Regions from separate parts of the Homo sapiens genome. Here region 2 is linked to region 1. Evidence: fine-mapped expression QTL. A gene starts in region 1. The other region holds a variant in brackets. All regions are shown on one strand. Distances are from middle to middle.

The links. PIP is the estimated chance that this variant, and not a neighbour inherited with it, causes the effect.
Region 2: its variant is fine-mapped to the expression of CNTN4-AS1 in whole blood (INTERVAL, PIP 0.95).

What each region holds. Positions count from the first base shown.
Region 1 is chr3:3,054,430-3,065,330 of GRCh38, reverse strand. It overlaps CNTN4-AS1 (CNTN4 antisense RNA 1), which reads left to right and starts at 4,186. Exons shown (of 4, transcript NR_046554.1): 1 at 4,186-4,264. CNTN4 (contactin 4) reads right to left here. Exons shown (of 25, transcript NM_175607.3): 25 at 7,372-9,211. The coding sequence ends at 9,111.
Region 2 is chr3:3,039,719-3,050,619 of GRCh38, reverse strand. CNTN4 (contactin 4) reads right to left here. Exons shown (of 25, transcript NM_175607.3): 20 at 10,349-10,583; 21 at 8,198-8,310; 22 at 7,457-7,643; 23 at 6,916-7,028. CNTN4-AS1 (CNTN4 antisense RNA 1) reads left to right here. Exons shown (of 4, transcript NR_046554.1): 2 at 7,607-7,707; 3 at 9,466-9,575; 4 at 10,238-10,901. Among named protein-coding and RNA genes, the nearest start is that of CNTN4-AS1, 16 kb to the left of the region's middle. The variant C/G (reference allele first, on the strand shown) is at 5,540.

The DNA of each region.
Region 1 (10,901 bases):
GAACGGAAAACAATATAGATTCTAAAGAACTATGTTCTAATGGTAGGTTCATTTATTAAAGCTGTGTGGTTATAGCAGAAGTTAAATCGTCACTGGAGCTTAAATTAATGAAGTAGTAAAAACTCACAGTGGGTGTGATGCTGGTCTCAGAAACGCTGCCCTCCACCTCCGCGGCCGGCATCACCCACCATTTGGCTCTCAGTAGACATCTGCGTTGTTGGTTGTCAGGAGCAACACAAAGCCGCCCATATGGCCCATGTGCATGATTTTAAAGTTCTAGCGGACTCTTTTCAACTTGAAGGTGTTTTATTAGGTTTGTTTCATTTATTAAAATTAAAAGCAAAGATTTGTCCCTGCCAAGTAATAAACTGGAAGAACACAGAAACCTGAGGGGAAAATTGCAAGAACGAAATCAGCAATAAAGTACTGGTGTCGTAGTTTAAAGGTCGGCAAGCTGCTGCTGCCTTTTTTTTTTTTTTTTTAAGACAGGGTCTCCTGTCTCACCCAGGCTGGAAAGGCTGGAGTGCAGTGCTGTGATCACCGTTCACTCCAGCCTCGACCTCCCGGGCTCAAATGATCCTCCCACCTCAGCCTCTCGCGTAGCTGGGACCACATGGGTGTGCCACCATGCCCAGCTAATTTATAAAATTTTTTTGTAGACACAGGGTCTCCCATGTTGCCCAGGCTGGTCTTGAACTACTGGGCTCAAGTGATCATCCAGCCCTTGGCCTCCCAAAGTGTTGGAATTACAGGCACGAGCCAGCAAACTCTTCTTAAAGGGCTAGATAGTAAATATTTTCAGCTTTGAGGACCATATGGTCTTTGTGGCAGCCACTCAGTTCTTCCGTGATAGCACAGAGTGGCCGTAGGCAATCTATAAATCAGCATGGCTATGTTGCAATAAATCTTGATTTACAAAAAAAGCGGGCAATGAGCTAGATTTTCCCAGAGGGCCAATATTGACACATGGCTTAATGGATTCAAAATATTTATGAATGTGTTTTTCTTTTTTTTAAGAAAAGCAACCAATTTGGGAAAATAATCATGTTTAATCAAATGAAAATATTCTATCCTGGGGGATCAATGGTAAAAAAAATTGTGTTTGACTGAACTTAACCTCATTATAAGTAGGTTTTGCAAGAAACACAGGTCCAGCATTGTGTTCATACCTTTATCTGTCACACTATTCACACCATCCTTCAATAAGTGTATTTCTGTCTCCTTCAGTGAACCATGAGGGAAGCCTTAACCCTATTTATCTCAGTTTCTCCAGTGCCCAGCAAGTGCTTGACACATAGTATGCACTCAATATCTTATTTGTTAACCACTAAATTCAAGAGGAACAACTGGGCCAATTCTAACTGCCAGTTATTTGGTCTCGGATATTTGGTCCCAACACTGCAGTTGATAAACGATGCGTCCACTACATAGTTTTCCAACGAGCTGTGCTGTGGCCTATGTTCCTGGCAACAAACCCATTTTTTTAAGCTTTCAGAATATTTCTGGAATCCCTTCCACCTGCTTTAACACCTTCTTGCCACATAATGTGGGCCTTTGCTGGGGAAAGATTCCCTTGTCTTAAAACTCTTTTCTGGGCTGGGTGCGGTGCCTCACGCCTGTCATCTCAGCACTTTGAGAAGCCAAGGTGGGTGGATCACCTGAGATCAGGGGTTCGAGACCAGCCTGACCAACATGGAGAAACCCGTCTCTACTAAAAATACAAAATTAGCCAGGCGTGGCGGCGCATGCTTGTAATCCCAGCTACTCAGGACGCTGAGGCAGGAGAATCACTTGAACCCGGGAGGCGGAGGTTGCAGTGAGCCGAGATTGCGCCATTGCACTCTATCCTGGGCAACAAGAGCAAAATTCCGTCTCAAAAAACAAACAAAAAAAAAACAAAACCTCTTTTCTGCCAGCTCTAAGAGGAACTTCACCCACCAGCCCTGTCTCTCTGGACACACACACATCCCATCCTCACACCATCCAAGGAAAAGTGGGAAGGAGAGTTCAGCAAACGAAACAGAACTCAAAACAGCAAACTTCATGTCTCGCCCTCAGAGCCATTGACCTTCAGAGATCTGACAACACATTCGCAAGACCCTGAAATTTTGAATTACAAATTAATTACTTCAATGAGAGTAATGAAGACCTCCTGGTGTCAGGTTGCCAGATTTAGCAAATAAAAATAAGAGGCTCAGTTAAAGTTGAATTTCAAATAAATATCACATGGGGCATACTTATACTAAGGAAGCATAATTTTTTTTTTATCTGAAATCTAAGTTTAATAGCTCCTCTCCTATTTTATTGGGTAATCCTGATCTTGAAGGGTAGCCGGAGTTTAAAGAAACAGCTCTAAGACACCTGAAGTCAAGGACAACGAACACGCAAAAAACAACATTTGCAGTCAAGGAAAGAGAAGCAGAGAAGCTGAGCCACTTTAGAGCAGACTGAAGCTCATGACTGCCTTTCCTTCTTGTTGCTATATGGGAACCGTATCTATCTGTCTATTTATCTATCTACCTACCTTATTGTTTATGTATCATCTATTTACAGATAGAGACATCTAATGTTTTGGAGTAGGGCCCTAAACCCAAGCCACCAGCATTTCAATTCCTGGTCTCTCTGATCAACTGTGTGATCAGGGACAAATGTGAACCTGTCAACCTCAATCCTCTGTGTATAAAATAGGAATAATAAATGGTAACTAAATCGGTAGGTTGATTTGCACTGAGTCTGGCACATATTATAAGCATAATCACTGTTTACTATTATTATTATCATTGCATTTCTCTGTATTGTGACAAAATACTGTTACTGGTGCCTTGGCTTCCTCACACACATCTGAATGCCACATCATTCTTCTATGCCCAGAATAGTGCCTGGTACAGAGAGGGCTGCCAGTAGTCCCTTGCTGAATAACTAAAACCCTCTCCAGGCACCTATCCTATCCCATTCCTCCAGATGGCTGTGCCCTGGGCCTGGCCGGCACTCAGAACTTCTCCACCTCCAGCATCTGAACCTCAGACATCTCACCCTTCTACCTCACCATTTCCTCTGGCCTACCTACTTGTCCTAGAATGTTCTCTAGTTGAACTTCAGAGTCTAGTTCCTTACTCCATCCTGTCCTTTCTCTAAGTACTTATTTCTAGGTGTATGAAATGCACTAATGAGTCTATGTTCTAAATTCTAGTCCTTCTTTTTTTTTTTTTCTTTTGTTTGAGACAGAGTCTCACTCTCTTGCCCAGGCTAGAGTGCAGTAGGGCAATCTCAGCTCACTACAACCTCTGCCTCCCAGGTTCAAGCAATCCTCCTGCCTCAGCCTCCTGGGTAACTGGGACTACAAGCACGTGCCACCATGCCCAGCTAATTTTTGTATTTTTAGTAGGAATGGGGTTTCACCATGTTGGCCAGGCTGGTCTCGAACTCTTGACCTTGTGATCCCCCCACCTCAGTCTCCCAAAGTGCTGGGATTACAGGTGTGAGCCACCATGCCCAGCCCTGACTTTCTAATTGTCTATGTTACTTTGGGCTTCTTATATAACCTCTTTGCTTCCATTTCATAAATAAAAAAGGAATAAAAACCTATGTCCTCCCCTTATTAGTGTGAAAAGCACTTTGAAAACTAGAAAAACAAATTAAAGATATTACTATTTGTTAAAGTCCTAGGACATATATATTTCCTGGTATAGTTCGTGTTATTCCTAACAATAAGGATATGTGGCAAAAACCCAGTTTACAGAGAATGGGGATATCACATGTAATTGCATCTATATTTAAGTAGCTCAGCCTTCCAATTTCCAGACTTTCAGATCGATCATATGGTTGACCTTTTTTAAAAAAAGCTTTCTCTCTATGTGATCTATATCACTAGAGCTCTGCTAATCTACCATGGCCCATAACTGCTTGTGATAAAGGATAGAGGCCAATTTTGTTTAAACTGTGATCTCTGTTGAGTATTGTAGTTTGCAGGTGAGTTGCAGAGCTGGAACATTTAATCCGCATGGCCCATTTAGCACAAGGGGAAACGGGGCCTCTTTGCAGAATGGGCAGCCTGACTTGCATTTACTAATCACACTCTGGCAGGGGGCCTGAGGAAATCACAGGAAACGGGGCCAGATATTCTCCTCCCTCTAGGTCTGAGATGGAGGTGACACAGGCCTTGTGCCTGGGAGCACAATGAGGAACCACACCCAGATGCCAACGCTGAGGTGCCGTGTGTCTACTATAAGGCGGAAGACACCAACAAAAATGATTTAAATATAAGGTACGAAGGGATGACTGACATGAGTGGGTACAGACCCCATCCCCTGGAGGTCAGAGAAATGCAAGGTCAATTTCAGATGGGGAAGCTGAGGGAGGCTTTGTGCAAAACCTGGCATCTGAATGGGAACCCTACTGCCTAAGTTTGAATTAGTTGATTGTATGATTAAAATTATCGAACATTAAAATTTATATTAAGAAGTGATCATGTTTAAATAAAAGGTGATAATGGATGTGTCAGCTGAGTTCCACTCATTTTGGTGATAAGAAGCATCCACATCCTACATCTGTGGGTCTAGTAAAGTCCCTGGAGAAAAAGAACAATAACAGACGGTAAAATCATCACTGTTTGGAGAGCTTTACAAACTTTATCCTCCCTAATAAGTAGCCAATCATTACAATGCACCCCAGGCAGTCAAACTCCAGGATCCACGTCCTTAGTCTTTGTATTAGGCTGCCTTTGTAAGGCCTCAGTGTCTGGCATTTTGTAATGGAAAAATCTGGGGTATGTCCACAGATTGAATATAAGTCCTTGATTTTAAAGGCTTGCCTTTCAAAGCACTATGGTTGGCCACATAACGTTTTTAGCCAGAACATTTTGTAAATTGTAACAACAGGAAAATAACAGTCACTTCTTGATTATAAGTGTTAACGGAGGAGAACAGTAGCATCGATAATCCAATGTAGTGAACAAAAATCACCTGTTGGTTGATTACATTAGATTAAAAACTGCATGACATTTTTGTTGCTAATTATGTGCTATTTGTATACTTTTTATAACTCAACATTCTTTGCGCATATTTGTAGTGAGGCAAGGTGGTGGAAGAGACTGGGTAAAGGTTAATCAGGATTTAACATTGCCTCCTGGATATAAACAACCACAATTTTGATGGTGGGAATAACACAATCATTCTTTCTTAATATCAAAGTCTATGCACCTTCTACCTCACAGGCTGGAAGAATTCAGAGCTTACCTGAGAAATGAAGCTTATCATCCATGTCTTCTGTGCCCATGGAAAGGTGCTGCTTTGTATGTAGCATGTGTGGGCTCCATAGAAAGTAGGTACACTGAGAGAATCCAAATATCTGGCACAATAGAATTTCCTTTCATACAGTTAAATCACAAGTGGACTACACACACAAAAAGGAGGGCAAGAGTAAGCACTTTGAAAGGTTAAACAAGCAAAGCAAATTTTCCTAGTGGTCCTCCTTCAGAAAAAAATCTCAAGCAGCAATATAGTCATTCCACTCGAGTGTATTACTTGGGCTAAGGGCCTAAGAAAGTCCCCTTGGCTGGCTAAGCCTAGAAAATCTGTTACTTATACCAACCCAGCATTTCTTCTCTTACCTTTGGAAAACAGCATCTTAGTTTTCCTTTAACTATCCCTCCCCTGTGAGTACAAGGTACTCTGGCTGTGGAACTCAAATGGAACTGATCACTTTCCCAGGAATCTGAATATTGAGCATAATGGCGTCAAAATTGGAAACAAAGCTGATTCATCCCCACAATAGCACCCCAAAAAGACTTTCCAAAGTTCCCATTGTCTGGACCCACAGAGTGGCCTGGTTCTTATTCTCCTCAAGAGTTGGTCCTTCAGTGTTTCCTTGGCTCATATGATGTAACCTGTGTCATTCTAATTCCTTACTTTTTGTTTGCTCAAGTTACCCAGGGTCGTTTCTTTGCTTACAGCCAGTGGACCCTACCTGAGGCAACCATGAAAGCCAACAAATGAGACAAGTTTGGGTGGAGGTGCTCATGGGGCACTTTCTAAAACATCTTCAATTCAGTTAGACTCAACTAATCCAGGACCTCATTTACCCGATGATGAAGCCAATTGGTCAAAGACTTCTTCCAGGTACAAAGTTAGAAGCCAGGCCTTTTAACGCTTTTCAGCACATAACGAAAGTAATGACACAGTCTTCCCTGGTTGGTTTGCTGTGGCACACAGGCAGGCAACTGATGCAAAATGCTACTTCAAAGACCCCTTCATTCAATTAATCAGTGAGTATTTATTGCAAGGCACTGTGCTAGGCACTATGGAGAGTACATGGAAGATAAGACCAAAGTCCCTGCCCTCAAGGAGCTTACAATCTAGTTGGGAAGACAAGCCATACATACAAGAAAAAGTAAGTAACAATACAGGAGTTAAATTAAAATGCAAGATAACAGTACAAGAGATTTCCAAAAGTAGTATCTGATTAATTACTAAATGAGCAGCATTGATAGGGGATGCAACTACTTCCAAGCGAGAATGTCATAAAGGACTGAAGCATGGGAAGTCTTTGCAGACAAACTGGGGCTGGAGCTACCCTAGGACAGCAGGGATCTGAATGGGAGAGAAGGGTGGAGAAGGCATTTCAGGAAGGGGCAGCCATAAGACCAAAGGCACAGAGGTGAGACCAAAAGCAAGCAGTGTTCAGGGGTCAGGGAGGGCTTACTGTGGCTGGATACACAGTTAAATCGTTTTGGATTAAAAAGGGCCTTAAGGGCCGGGTGCGGTGGCTCAAGCCTGTAATCCCAGCACTGTGGGAGGCCGAGGCGGGCAGATCACCTGAGGTCAGGTGTTTGAGACCAGCCTGACTAACATGGTGAAATCTCGTCTCTACTAAAAATCCAAAAATTAGTCCGGTGTAGTGGTGGGCGCCTCGGGAGGCTGAGGCAGGAGAATTGCTTGAACCTGGGAGGCGGAGGTTGCAGTGAGCCGAGATCGCAACATTGCACTCCAGCCTGGGTGACAAGAGTGAGACTCCGTCTCAAAAAAAAAAGAGCCTTAAATGCTCAAGCTTAGAACTTACCCTTTTAGCAATGGGGGGTGAGGGAAACAACAGATATACTTACAGTAAATATACAAAAGACTTAGCTAATCAAGAGAAAATATTCAAGTCTCATCTTCAGGACATTTACTTGTGGATTAGGACCCTCTCTACTTCCAAAGAGGATTTGAAATGGTGCTTCAGGGTTGTCAATTCCAAAGGAAAAGCTCTGGGTCATCTAGATTTGGGTAGAGACTTTTGAGTCCCTCTATGATCCCAAATTATAACTAGCACAAAGGTAAGCTAACAAATTCCCTGACAGGCAGGCAGGAAAAATGCTCCCGAAAGACAAGTATCTTTACAAATGACAGAATATTTATTAACAATACCTTTAAAAAAGATTACATATGCTAGATCACTGGTAAATATCATTTACACTGGGGTTGGGAACTCCCTGGGTGTCATTTTTTTTCGTTCATTTTATTATTTTGCTGATTTTTTTTTTGCATGTGATTTTAAATTTTATTTCAACATAGAAGTAACCATATCAAACTAAGAAAGGAACACAGCTTGAAATACTGACAATATTTTTTTCCGGTTACCACCCTAGTTTTTACACAAATGGAATCCCGATTATGACTTTATTGGATAAATATAACTAGAAGGTTGAAAAGTTATATTATTTGTAAGCAAAAATGACAAACTATAGCAAATTTGAGTTCTCTGAGAAAGAAGAAAAGGTGGCAGCATGTTTACATGAGAAAATGTTTATAGAAAATTCCATTGCCTTTTATGTCACTGTCCAGTAGGGTTTACTCACAAAACCTTTCTCATTGTAACAAATAGTTCTTTTCATAAGAATACAGTTTTGTTGATATTGTCATTTTCCAATGTGTGATTTTAAGACCTAGAAGGTAAAGCATATAAAGCAACTAGGCTACCTATTGCAAAACAGAATCATCAAGAAACCATACAATTGTACTAAAGAGCTTTTATAGAGTCATATTAAAAATTCTTGCAGCAACTATTTGTTGAAATAGGAGCAATCTTCCAAAGTCCATATGTAATTTTGATTCAAAAGAAGGGCTCTATTATTACAGAGATACACATATTATATATAAGAAATTTTGTAAAGAAATTACGAATCCATTGACAGAGAATTACTTTTTTTAAATTTACATTCAAAATAGATACAGTTAAAGATAATAAAATGATCTTTTATCCTTTGAAAGACTTGGTTGACTATAGTAACTTTGGGTCTATGTTACTACAGGATATATGTTACTTCAAATTTAATGTCTAAGATAATGCTACCACAAAGACAATGCTAACTCAGTTGAGTGAAAAGAAAATCTTCCTGTACAATGCTAAATTCAGGGATGGGAATATTGCACAAGGTGCCTCTTGGGCAGTACATTGAGCTTTTGAGATTGCAGCCATTCCTGAAACCATCTCAAGTTGGGTTGAACAACAAAATTCACAACGGCATGAAAACATACTGTACATGTCAAAATCACAACGGCATGGGAAACATACTGTACATGTCAAGTGCATTAACCACTAGAAGAGTAGTTTGCATACAACAGCCTTGAGTTACGGACCAAGTCTTCCGCTGTTCTGCCATGAGATCCTTGTAAAACTGTACGAGTAATTTGCAATTTATTTACCAAGATGAGTTTCAAACTCTGTCTTTAAAGGAAATATTTTCAAATTATAATTGCATGATTGTGTTGCCCATAGCATTTTACAGCCGAGGAAAAAATTAATATCTACATTATATGTTAACTTTAAAAAATTCTATAAAACACTAAATATATAATAAAAAATATGCATATAAGGACATATGTAAACTGCTTTGGTAACATCATATTACAGATGTCTTCAGTGCATTGCAGAGTTTCCAAAGAAACTTCAGACAAAGCTAGATTTGCTTTGAGGAAGTACTGTATAATGCCATTCCTAAAGAAGCAAAAAACATTTTTATTCCAGTAATAAGATGTACTTGAACAACAATATTACTTAGTACTGGGTGTCTTCAAAACAACTAGCTAAATGTTGCTTATATTATAAACAGCAAGTCCTTCAGATAACTTTTGTCATAAACTGGACCTAGCTGTGAGGGAAATCATTATTGTACTGATGGCTGACAGCGTACATGCATTCGAAGTGGAAGCCCCAGATCCTCTCGCGTAGGCATCTGAAAAGAGAGAACAAATTCACTCAAAACAGCCCCATCCCGGCTTCAAAGGGAAGAGGGGCCACGGGGCTTTTTGAAACAGCAGAACTGCATGGATTCTACTGGAAATGATGATCAAGGTCTTAATGGCTTTTAAATATCAGTTCTATGACTACCAAGCTACAAACCTGGGAGTAGGGTATAGGACAGCCCTGTACCTCTGTCAAAGCATTTGTAAAGTAAGGAGGTTCCTATCTAATGTGAGAAGAAACTTCAATATTACTAGTAACAATACTGATAAACAGCATGCTATGTCGATGATTCAACAAAATGAAAATTGCTGCTCCCTTTTGAACTCTATCTTTCTGCTGGGCACAGATGAATATGACACTTAAATCTTGCAAAAACTGGATGAAGGCCAGGTATTATTATTACCTCGCTTAACAGATGGCGGTAATTTGCGCCCAGAGAAATAAAGTAACTTATCTAAGATCACCCAGCTAGTAAATGGCTAAACTGGGGTTCAAACCCATGTCTGTCTAAATCTACCCCTTTTCTGCAAACAAAATAGCCTCAATCCTTTTTTAAATTTTCTTATGGGTCTTACACTTTTCATAGTAAGAAGCTATCAACTGTCATTCGGGGGTTCTTCAATCTTGTAAGGTCTCTTTGACCAACATGATGAAAAATCTCTTGAAACAGATCATGTTTGGTTCACAGTCACTTCCTTGTTATCTAATAATTACACCAATATAATTGCTTAATATATGTTTTTGTAATGAATAAAACCAGGAATCATCAGTCTATCTAAAAATGTCAATCCCTGCAATGATAAGAAAGTATGAAGTATAAAGTCAGATTTTTAATGAAGCGAGATAAGCCCCAATCTTGTATTTTTGTGGCCTGGAGATTTTACTTCCACATCTCACCAAAAATCTAGCTCCCTTTCGATAGAAGTTAGAGGCTTTGTTTGATAAAGTATAATCCAATTGTCCCCCTTTTAAGACAAAAATGCCTTTTGTGTTTGTATGCAAAAAAGATGCAGTAAATATAAACTCCATCCAGAAACACTGGCATATCACCCCTTAGCAGAGGGATGTCACATGGCTAAAAGTCAGGATGGTGGTGAGGATTTTGTCCATAATTTAAAATATCATCTTTTTACCAATGTCTTGAAAATTTATACCTCCAGCCTTCACTGCTCCCCTAATCTCCAGACTGAAATCTGAAAGCCTGTGAAAGTCTACACTTAGATATCTAACCACAGTCTTTTTTTTATTGCTGTAAAATACACATAACAAAATTAGCATTTTAACTCATTTAAAATGTACAAATCAGTGGTACTAAGTATACTCCAGTGTTGTGCAACCAGCACCACTCTCAAGCTCCATAACTTTTGTGTCACCCCAAATGAAGACCCAGTGCCTAAACCCCCATTCCCCACTGACCAGCCACTGCCAATCACTAGCCTCACTTCTGTCTCCACGGATTTGGCTATTTTGTTTTTTTTCTTTAAATAAATGAGATCACACACAACAACAAAAAAATCATGCTCTTAAGATACTTACAAACATGGTATTTGTAAAAACAGAATTGAATGTATTTGCTCAAAAAGAATATGCTATTCTCCCATGCTATTCAACAACATTTGAAAGTGAAGATAATCTTGACTATAGAGAGACATACACATTGATGCACATGTTGCATATAC
Region 2 (10,901 bases), 15 kb after region 1:
TGCTGATTTTATATTTTTAGCAGAGACGGGGTTTCACCATGTTGGTCAGGCTGGTCTCAAACTCCTGACCTCAGGTGATCCACCCACCTCGGCCTCCCAAAGTGCTGGGATTACAGGTGTGAGCCACCGTGCCCGGCCTCAGAACCTGGATTTTTAACGAAGACTACCTTGGCTACCACCTGTAGGGCTCTGGGCAAATTGCTTTCCCTCTCTGGCATCTGTCTTTGGGAACACAAACCAAGGGAGTTAGACAGCAAAAAACTAGTGGCCCATGGGTCATAACCAGCCTGCATATATTATTTGTTTGGCTGTCATAGTGTTATTTTTTTTGAGTTAGACATGAACATTTAAAAACCGAGAAATTAGACATTAAAAATTTGTGGGTTCTACTGAAAAACTGGAAGATATGGCCACACTGGTTGCTATGCTTTGGATGCTTGTCCTCTCCAAAACTCATGTTGAAATTCGCCATTTTAACTGTATTAACAGGTGAACCTTGAAGAGATAATTAGGCCATGAGGTGATTAGGCTCACCCTCACAGATGGAATTAGCACTGTTGTAAAAGGGCGAGTCAGCTCTCTATCCCTCTCCCTCCCAGCACTGGGTGTCAATAAACTTCTGTTCATATTAATTGCCCAGTCTCAGGTATTCTGTTCCTGAGTAAGACTCTACAAAAGTGCGATCCAGAATAAAATAGACTAAGCCAGTGATCTATATTCCTGTCTGCCAACAACTGGTTGGAGTTGAGAAGTCTCATTCTGAACAATCACAAACTCTGCAGTTGGTGATAGTCCCAACACTTCCAATGTTGCTACATTGTCACATGCCTACCTCTGGACCTTTGCACTTCCTTTTTTGCAGTACTTGGGACATTCCCAGAGAGGTGCCAAGGCCCAACTGAAATCTCACCACTTAAAAGTGGCTTTCCTTGGCCTTTCTATAAAATAATACATCTCTCCTGTCCACTCCATGGCTTTCTCTATTCCCCTCACTCTAGCCTCTTTTTCTCTGCAGTACTTTGTTATCACTTATTCTATTTATTTATGGCTGGTAGGCAGAAGCACCAAGTGGCTAAATGTAGAACTCAGGATCCATACTGCTGTATTCGGATCCCAGGTCTTCAACATACCAGCTGTGTGAAAGGCAAGTGACTAAACTCTATGCCACAGCTCTTCATCCGTAAAACTAGCAATAATAACTGTACCTATCTTCATGGTTATTATACAGTTAAGATGAGGCCAGGCATGGTGGCTCATGCCTGTAATCCCAGCACTTTGGGAGGCTGAGGCAGGCGGATCACCTGAGGTCAGGAGTTTAAGACCAGCCTGGCCAACATGGTGAAACTCCATCTCTACTAAAAATACAAAAATCAGCCAGTCGTGGTGGTGGGCGCCTGTAGTCTCAGCTACTTGGGAGGCTGAGGCAGGAGAACTGCTTGAACCCTGGAGGCGGAGGTTGCAGTGAGCCAAGATTGTACCACTACACTCCACCTTGCGTGACAGAGGGAGACTCTGTCTCAAAATACAACAAAATAAAATATAAAGTTAAGATGAATTGGAACAGTGCTTAGTAGACGTATTAGTAGTAGTTTCTGAATGGACTGAACAGAACTCATTTATGTTATCTGCCTGGCCCTGCAGGTAGTTTAATTTGTGATACTAAAACCAGATGCTCTCCTTTTAGCTCTAATGCCATAAAGTAGCTTAAGGATTTGTGTTGACAAAATATTTGGGGCCTTAAACTTTCTAAAGTCAGCTTCTTGTTGAGACTGTCTACCTAAGCTGAGATCTAAAGAATTCAGACAACTTAGTGAAGAAGGGAAAATAAACCCACACCCCAACATGTTCAGTATTTGGGAGGAAAACTTAATTTTGGAAAGGGTCAGTCTGAGATAAACAATAGCCATATTTAATGGGTCAAATTCTCTAGCAAAGGTCAACTCTTCCGTTGCAATCAGATCCGCTTTTTATTCAGCCTCTAATCTCACCCTAAAAGTGACACTAGGGAGAGTTTCCTGAGCTATCATGGGACGTGAGATATCACGGGAGGTACCACACATACACACACACAAATACACACACACACACACACACACACACACAGAGAGAGAGAGAGAAAGAGAGAGAGTTATTCATTGGTACCTTGGTAATTCAGGGAACTGGCTTCAGGACCTCCCTAAAATACCAAAATCTGTGGATACTCAAGTCCTGGATATACAATGGTATAGAATTTGTGTATAACCTAAGCATATCTTTCCGTATACTTTAAATCAACTTTAGATTACTCATAATACCTAATATAATGTAAATGGTATGTAAATAGTTGTTATACTGTATTGTTTTTAAAATCTGTGTCATTTTCATTGTATTTTTTTGTGTGTTTTTTTTCCTGAATATTTTTGATCCACATTTGAGAGTATGGAACCTGTGGATACCTGTAGCTTTAAATTATGTATCTCTAAACATTCACATGTATATGTAGCAATTCAAAATGTATAGCCAGTTACAGTGACCTTCCTTGGGGTGTAGTTGAGGAGGTGTAGGGTGTCTGGCTCTTCCAGTACCACTCCTAAAAAGAAGGGGGAGTGACTGAGCTGGAAATTAAGAAGAACTCAGAAAGTGTCCTTTCCTACCATCTGGTCTAACCCTGTTACCCACTCTCAAGGGTGGTGATATCCCCTTGATCATTTTTTATTGCATCTATTTGATTCTTCTCTCTTTTCTTCTTTATTAGTCTTGCTAGCAGTCTATCAATTTTGTTGATCTTTTCAAAAAACCAGCTCCTGGATTCACTGATTTTTTGAATGGTTTTTTGTGTCTCTATCTCCTTCAGTTCTGCTCTGATCTTAGTTATTTCTTGCCTTCTGCTAGCTTTTGAATGTGTTTGCTCTTGCTTCTCTAGTTCTTTTAATTGTGATGTTAGGGTGTCAATTTTAGATCTTTCCTGCTTTCTCTTGTGGGCATTTAGTGCTATAAATTTCCCTCTACACACTGCTTTGAATGTGTCCCAGAGATTCTGGTATGTTGTGTCTTTGTTCTCGTTGGTTTCAAAGAACATCTTTATTTCTGCCTTCATTTCGTTATGTACCCAGTAGTCATTCAGGAGCGGGTTGTTCAGTTGCCATGTAGTTGAGCGGTTTTGAGTGAGTTTCTTAATCCTGAGTTCTAGTTTGATCGCACTGTGGTCTGAGAGACAGTTTGTTGTAATTTCTATTCTTTTACATTTGCTGAGGAGTGCTTTACTTCCACCTATGAGGTCAATTATGGAATAAGTGCGATGTGGTGCTGAGAAGAATGTATATTCTGTTGATTTGGGGTGGAGAGTTCTGTAGATGTCTATTAGGTCTGCTTGGTGCAGAGCTGAGTTCAATTCCTGGATATCCTTGTTAACTTTCTGTCTCGTTGATCTGTCTGATGTTGACAGTGGGGTGTTAAAGTCTCCCGTCATTATTGTGTGGGAGTCTAAGTCTCTTTGCAGGTCACTCAGGACTTGCTTTATGAATCTGGGTGCTCCTGTATTGGGTGCATATATTTTTAGGATAGTTAGCTCTTCTTGTTGAATTGATCCCTTTACCATTATGTAATGGCCTTCTTTGTCTCTTTTGATCTTTGTTGGTTTAAAGTCTGTTTTATCAGAGACTAGGATTGCAACCCCTGCCTTTTTTTTGTTTTCCATTTCCTTGGTAGATCTTCCTCCATCCCTTTATTTTGAGCCTATGTGTGTCCCTGCACGTGAGACAGGTTTCCTGAATACAGCACACTGATGGGTCTTGACTCTATCCAATTTGCCATCTGTGTCTTTTAATTGGAGCATTTAGCCCATTTACATTTAAGGTTAATATTGTTATGTGTGAATTTGATCCTGTCATTATGATGTTAGCTGGTTATTTTGCTCGGTAGTTGATGCAGTTTCTTCCTAGCATCAATGGTCTTTACAATTTGGCATGTTTTTGCAGAGGCTGGTACTGGCTGTTCCTTTCCATGTTTAGTGCTTCCTTCAGGAGCACTTTTAGGGCAGGCCTGGTGGTGACAAAATCTCTCAGCATTTGCTTGTCTGTAAAGGATTTTATTTCTCCTTCACTGATGAAGCTTAGTTTGGCTGGATATGAAGTTCTGGATTGAAAATTCTTTTCTTTAAGAATGTTGAATATTGGCCCCCACTCTCTTCTGGCTTGTAGAGTTTCTGCCAAGAGATCCGCTATTAGTCTGATGGGCTTCCCTTTGTGGGTAACCTGACCTTTCTCTCTGGCTGCCCTTAACATTTTTTCCTTCATTTCGACTTTGGTGAATCTGACAATTATGTGTCTTGGAGTTGCTCTTCTCGAGGACTATCTTTGTGGCATTCTCTGTATTTCCTGAATTTGAATGTTGGCCTGCCTTGCTAGGCTGGGGAAGTTCTCCTGGATAATATCCTGCAGAGTGTTTTCCAACTTGGTTCCATTCTCCCCGTCACTTTCAGGTACACCAATCAGACGTAGATTTGGTCTTTTCACATAGTCCCTTATTTCTTGGAGGCTTTGTTCGTTTCTTTTCATTCTTTTTTCTCTAAACTTCTCTTCTTGCTTCATTTCATTCATTTGATCTTCCATCACAGGTACCCTTTCTTCCAGCTGATCGAATTGGCTACTGAAGCTTGTGCCTTCGTCATGTAGTTCTCGTGCCATGGTTTTCAGCTCCATCAGGTCATTTAAGGACTTCTCTACATTGGTTAGTCTAGTTAGCCATTTGTCTAACCTTTTTTCAAGGTTTTCAACTTCTTTGGGATGGGTTCGAACTTCCTCCTTTAGCTCGGAGAAGTTTGGTCATCTGAAGCCTTCTTCTCTCAACTCATCAAAGTCATTCTCCATCCAGCTTTTTCCATTGCTGGTGAGGAGGTGCGTTCCTTTGGAGGAGGAGAGGTGCTCTGATTTTTAGAATTTTCAGTTTTTCTGCTCTATTTTTTCCCCATATCTGTGGTTTTATCTACCTTTGGTCTTTGATGATGGTGACGTACAGATGGGGTTTTGGTGTGGATGTCCTTTCTGTTTGTTAGTGTTCCTTCTAACAGTCAGGACCCTCAGCTGCAGGTCTGCTGGAGTTTGCTGGAGGTCCACTCCAGACCCTGTTTGCCTGGGTTTCAGCAGCGGAGGCTGCAAAACAGCAAATATTGCTGAACAGCAAATGTTGCTGCCTGATCGTTCCTCTGGAAGTTTTGTCTCAGAGGGGTACCTGGCTGTGTGAGGTGTCAGTCTGCCCCTACTGGGGGGTACCTCCCAGTTAGGCTACTCGGGGGTCAGGGAACCACTTGAGGAGGGAGTCTGTCCATTCTCAGATCTCAAACTCCGTGCTGGGGGAAACACTATTCTCTTCAAAGCTGTCAGACAGGGACATTTAAGTCTGCAGAGGTTTCTGCTGCCTTTTGTTTGGCTATGCCCTGCCCCCAGAGGGCAAGGAGGCAGGCAGGCCTCCTTGAGCTGCAGTGGGCTCCACCCAGTTTGAGCTTCCAGGCCGCTATTTACCTACTCAAGCCTCAGCAATGGCAGGCGCCCCCTCCCCCAGC[C/G]TCACTGCTGCCTTGCAGTTCGATCTCAGACTGCTGTGCTAGCAACGAGCAAGGCTCTGTGGGCATGGGACCCTCTGAGCCGGGCATGGGACCCTCTGAGCCATGCATGGGATATAATCTCCTGGTGTGCCGTTTGCTAAGACCATTGGAAAAGCGCAGTATTAGTATTAGGGTGGGAGTGCCCTGATCTTCCAGGTGCTGTCTGTCACAGCTTTGCTTGGCTAGGAAAGGGAATTCCTTGACCCTTTGCCCTTCCCAGGTGAGGCGATGCCTCGCCCTGCTTCAGCTTATGCTCGGTGCACTTCCCCCACTGTCCTGCGCCCACTGTCCGACAAGCCCCATTGAGATGAACCCAGTACCTCAGTTGGAAATGTAGAAATCACCAGTCTACTGCGTTGCTCACGCTGGGAGCTATAGACTGGAGCTGTTCCTATTTGGCCATCTTGGAACTGCCCACGTCCATCCTTAGCTTTTAAAAGGGCTGGCAGCTTCTGCTTTCTTCCTCTTGAAGCTGACAACTATGTAAGAAATCCGACTACTCTGAGGTCACCATACTGTGAGGAAGCCCAGGTTATCCGTGGGGAAAGGCCTCATAGAGAGCATGATCACTGGCCAGCCTCAGCTTTCCCACCTATCCCATCCAAGAAGCCAAAAGTGTGTGAAGAAGCATCTTAGTTATTCCAGCCCTAAAATCTGTCCATTCTGGCCCTATCCACATTGCAAAGTCATAAAAAATGATACACTGTTGCTGTTTTAGCCCCTAGCTTCAGGTTGGTTTGTTAGGTAGCAAATAGGTAGCTGGAAACGTTGCAAGATATTTATAACCCTTTTTGATTGCTGCAAGAAGGCTACAGACATGTTCTTTTCATTTTCTCATTAAAGACAAGCCAACATTTATGGGGTCAGGCAAACATTTTCTCCACTTTTCCTGCTTTTTCTCTCTTTTCTCTTTTTCTTTATATAACTCTTGACTATAGAAACATACGAACAAAAATGATTAATCATTGGTAATATCAGGAGGCTACTAAGTTGACTAAAAAATATATATAAACCGAGACAGGAGCAAAACGAAGCTGACAGTAGGAATGTTTAAAAAGTGGTTCTTCAGGGTATTTTTGGAGACCCAAACACAGGGTCTTTATCCATTTCTGATTGATGCTGCCTGAGACTAAAGTTAAGGTGATTGTCTAAATCCTGACCAATTGCCATAGACTATTTATACAACTCAGATCAAACCGTGTTGGAGGCAGCGATTCCTAGAGGGTAGGAGAGCATCACCAGGGAAACTGACAATGCAGACAACTGTATAATTCATGGAGGAGACTGCCCCCACTCACAGCACGATTAGGTGCCTTTGCAAAAAAGAAATTACCTACTTTGTATCCTTTTACTTCCGACTCATTATCCAGGGCCTTCACTTGATCCCAATTCAGGATAATTTTGGAGTCTGATGAATTCCATATGATGTTTCCGGGGGGTTGACTTGGTGCTATAAAAAAATTAAGATATACGAAGTCACAGATTATTAAGTCTCAATGGATTCTGAGGAATATCTCCTTACTAGAATTCGAGAGTGGAGGCAATTTAATGGGCTATTGCACTAATATGTGTCTTCAAGGTCACTAAAATCTGATGAGATACAGCATTGCAAATGGAAAAAGATTCAGTTGGTCGCCTAACATTTATAGCTAAAAGAAGTAGCCCTTCCCAGTGAGGAGAAAAACATTTATCTTTCTGTCCTCCACAGCAATGAATTTTGCGTGGTATACGGAAAGGTTCAGTTAAAATGCTGAGGGAAATTTGAATCCACATGCTACTAATTAGTATGCAAATGATCATTGGGAGGTGGGGATAAGGAATAAACTTGGGATATGTGTGATGAATCCCCAAAATATTTCTGAGCAAGTCTGTTCTTACGTGGCTTTCGGGTTGTCACATTGACTGTTGCACTAGAGGGGCCTGTCCCAGCAGAATTATATGCCTTGACAGCTAAGTGATACAGCACACTGCCTTTTAAGTTCGTGATTTTTGTTGATGTCTGATTTCCAACTGTTCGTATTTTTCTAGCATTTTCTTCTTTGTCTTCATGTCTCCAATATTTAACCTAAGAAGATAAACAGAAAGACCTTGGAAACCATACCCAATGGGGATATTTGCAATGTCATCAGGTAATTTTGTACGCAGATTCTTATGATGGAGTTAGTTTTCTATACTACATCATGAGCAGAGCTATCAGGACAAAGGACTCTGTATATCCTGAGAAATTATCCAAAGTAAGAAGGGTCCCTTTTTTGTCCTTAGCTTCCTAGTGAGACGGTACATTGACACAACCGTCGTTCATTATTTTCTTTTTTCCCATGTTTGTTTTGAGTCAAAGTGATCCTGGGCATATCAGAAGTCAAAGCTCATTTTGCCAACCATCCCGTAAATGCTTAGATTTGCATATAATTCGAAAAATACCTCTAGAATATAACATAGAAAAAGGGTAGTCTCACAGCTGAGTATTCAATGCTTCCATTAATGTTCAGCTGGAAGCCAGGCCTAAAACCAATGCCTCTTAGTGGGAATGTGGGTCTCTTCCTATAAGAATGTGACTTGGAGGACTTATCAAGGGGCATAGACTCTCTTTCAGACCCAAGGCACATATGTCTTGCCTACCTCATAACCTTGTATTCGTCCTCTATTCTTCTCCAGTGGGGAGGCCCAGAAAACTTCAATATCTGTGGCAGAAAGACTTCTGGCAAAGATACTGGCTGGTGGTTTGGTGGGTTCTGTAGATGAATATGGAGATAGTTATTACTCTATCAGCTATATTAGGACAGGATTGTAGATACTAGCATTATAAGGTAAAATAATTCATGGTTATAGAATCGTCCTTAATGATTGTAAGCCAAACCCTCATTTTGCAGAGGGGCAGTGATTAATAGCTGGAGTTGGTGGTAGTGAATATTTGTCCAGTGTTTGGGTTCTGAATTTAGGTGTGGGTAGAAGAGAAGAACCACTTAAGTTTAAGCACCAAGTTTTCATAGCCAGCAATTCCCTTAACACAGATCCTTCTTAATTAGCATCTCACAAATGTTATTGCTTACGACATGGCTAAACTGCTTCTCTTTTTCTTTTTTGAAATAGGGTCTCACTCTGTCACCTAGGCTGGAATGTAGTGGCACAATCATGGCTCACTGCAGCCTGACCTCCTGAGCTCAAGCCATCCTCCCGCCTCAGCCTCCCAAGTAGCTGGGACCACACACACATGTGCCAACACGCCTGGCTAATGTTTTTTTGTAAAGACTTGGATCTTGCTATGTTGCCCAGGTTGGTCTCAAACTCCTAGGCTCATGCTATCCTCCCACATCCCCCTCCCAAAGTGCTGGGATTACAGGCATGAGCCACTGTGCTTGCCCACTAAATTTTTTTTAAGGAAGACTATTGAAAGAAAAATGTGAACATATACAAATGGTACACAGCTATGGCAGAAATCTGGCAAAAATAACTGAAATTTGGGAAACAGTCAGTCTAGCCTCTCCTTTGCAGCCAAAGATGCTGAGGCCCACAGAGTATACCTGAGTTATCCAAGATCATACAGATTGCAGTGTGAACCTGAAGTGTCATCCAGCTCTCTTGAATCTTAGTCAAGTCAGCTGACTGTCCTTTTCCCCTTTTCCTCTCATTTTCATAATCCAGAGACATGAACTATTATCTAAGAGAAGTTGAAGGCTATGAAAAGGGCTGAAGCTTGTTTGAATAATTGTAAATCCTTTGGCAATGGTTGGAACATGAAATATGCAGGGAAAGGCATCAGCAGCTGAGGCAGACAGAGAGGCAGCAGCTAGATCATGGAGGGCTACTGAGTCTAAGGGGATGATCTCTCTGATTGGGAATAAGTTATTGCATCTTCACTGACTCTAAATCAATGATTCACCTTTCAGATGTTTTAACATGGTCCCATTCTGAGCATCATCTTTAAAACAACATAGACGAACTCCAAAGGTAACGAAGACTGTGTGAGAGGCATCCCGAGAGCAGGGATAGCATGGAGGTGATAATAATGTGTGAGAAATGTTAAACATAATGATGGTGTGGATGACAGTGAGCGCAATCACACTGCTTCATGACTTACTCTTTTCTTTAATAAGTGAGATTTTTTTTTTTTTTTGAGATGGAGTTTTGCTCTTGTTGCCCAGGCTGGAGTGCAGTGGTGCGATCTCGGCTCACCGCAACCTCCGCCTCCTGGGTTCAAGTGATTCTCCTGTCTCAGCCTCCTGAGTAGCTGGGATTACAGGGATGTGCCACTACAACTGGCTAATTTTATATTTTTAGTAGAGATGGGTTTTCTCCATATTGGTCAGGCTGGTCCCGAACTCCCAACCTCAGGTGATCCACCCGCCTTGGCCTCCCAAAAGTGTTGGGATTACAGGTGTGAGCCACAAGTACCATATGCTTTATGAAAATACAAGTGGTAAGAAAATGCAAATTATATTTTGATATTCACTTAAAGGCAAAAATAAAATTCTTTTGAAAGTAATGATAACATATAGATAGATATGAAGATCTTATATGGTATTTGCAATTCTGGTCCTTAGCAATGGAATCAATAATGGACAGCCAAGTGTTTTCATATACAGAGCAGTCGCTATCTTTTCAAGAGATTCATGGTGGACAGCGAACCAAATTGTTTACATTATCCTCTTCTCAAATCAGGTATGCCTTCAAGATACATGTACCATGCGAAATTGATTGTACGTGCTACAATCCACATTTTAGAATTGAAGAAATATTAACAGTCAATGATCTAGGCAGCATAAACGATACCTTCTTCTGCAGAATACACCACCGTGGTGGGACTGAAAGGGCCTTCTCCTTTGTTGTTGAAGACACCTACTTTAACCTCAAAGGGAGAGAAGGGGTGCACGCTCTCATTCCTGAACACGTATCTAGAGGCATCAGCTGAGGCCAGCACTGTCAGCATCCAGATCATTTTACCGTAGGGCCGGAAGGCCACCACATAACCAAAGCCTCGACCATTCTGTAATTCCTCAGGGACCGTCTGGGAAAGAAGGAAGGTGGTCTTCAGAAATCACAGTAGTTTCACTCAAATGCAAAAATCGTTTTTGTTTCCCTTGTAACATTCTTGTCTACATCCTTCTCCACCCATCTTATTTGGCGTTTTGTTAACAGTCTTTTAAATTTAGGGCTTGCAGTCAGTCTATCTTAAACAGTTATGATGTACTGGACAGGGTTGAAAACGTAATGAGGATCTGCAGTCCAGAGCTTGCTCTTTGATGGGGCAGACCCAGCTCTGAAATGGTTGGAAATGATTGTAAAAAAAAAAACACTGGACATCGGTCTCCTGAAAAACCACATT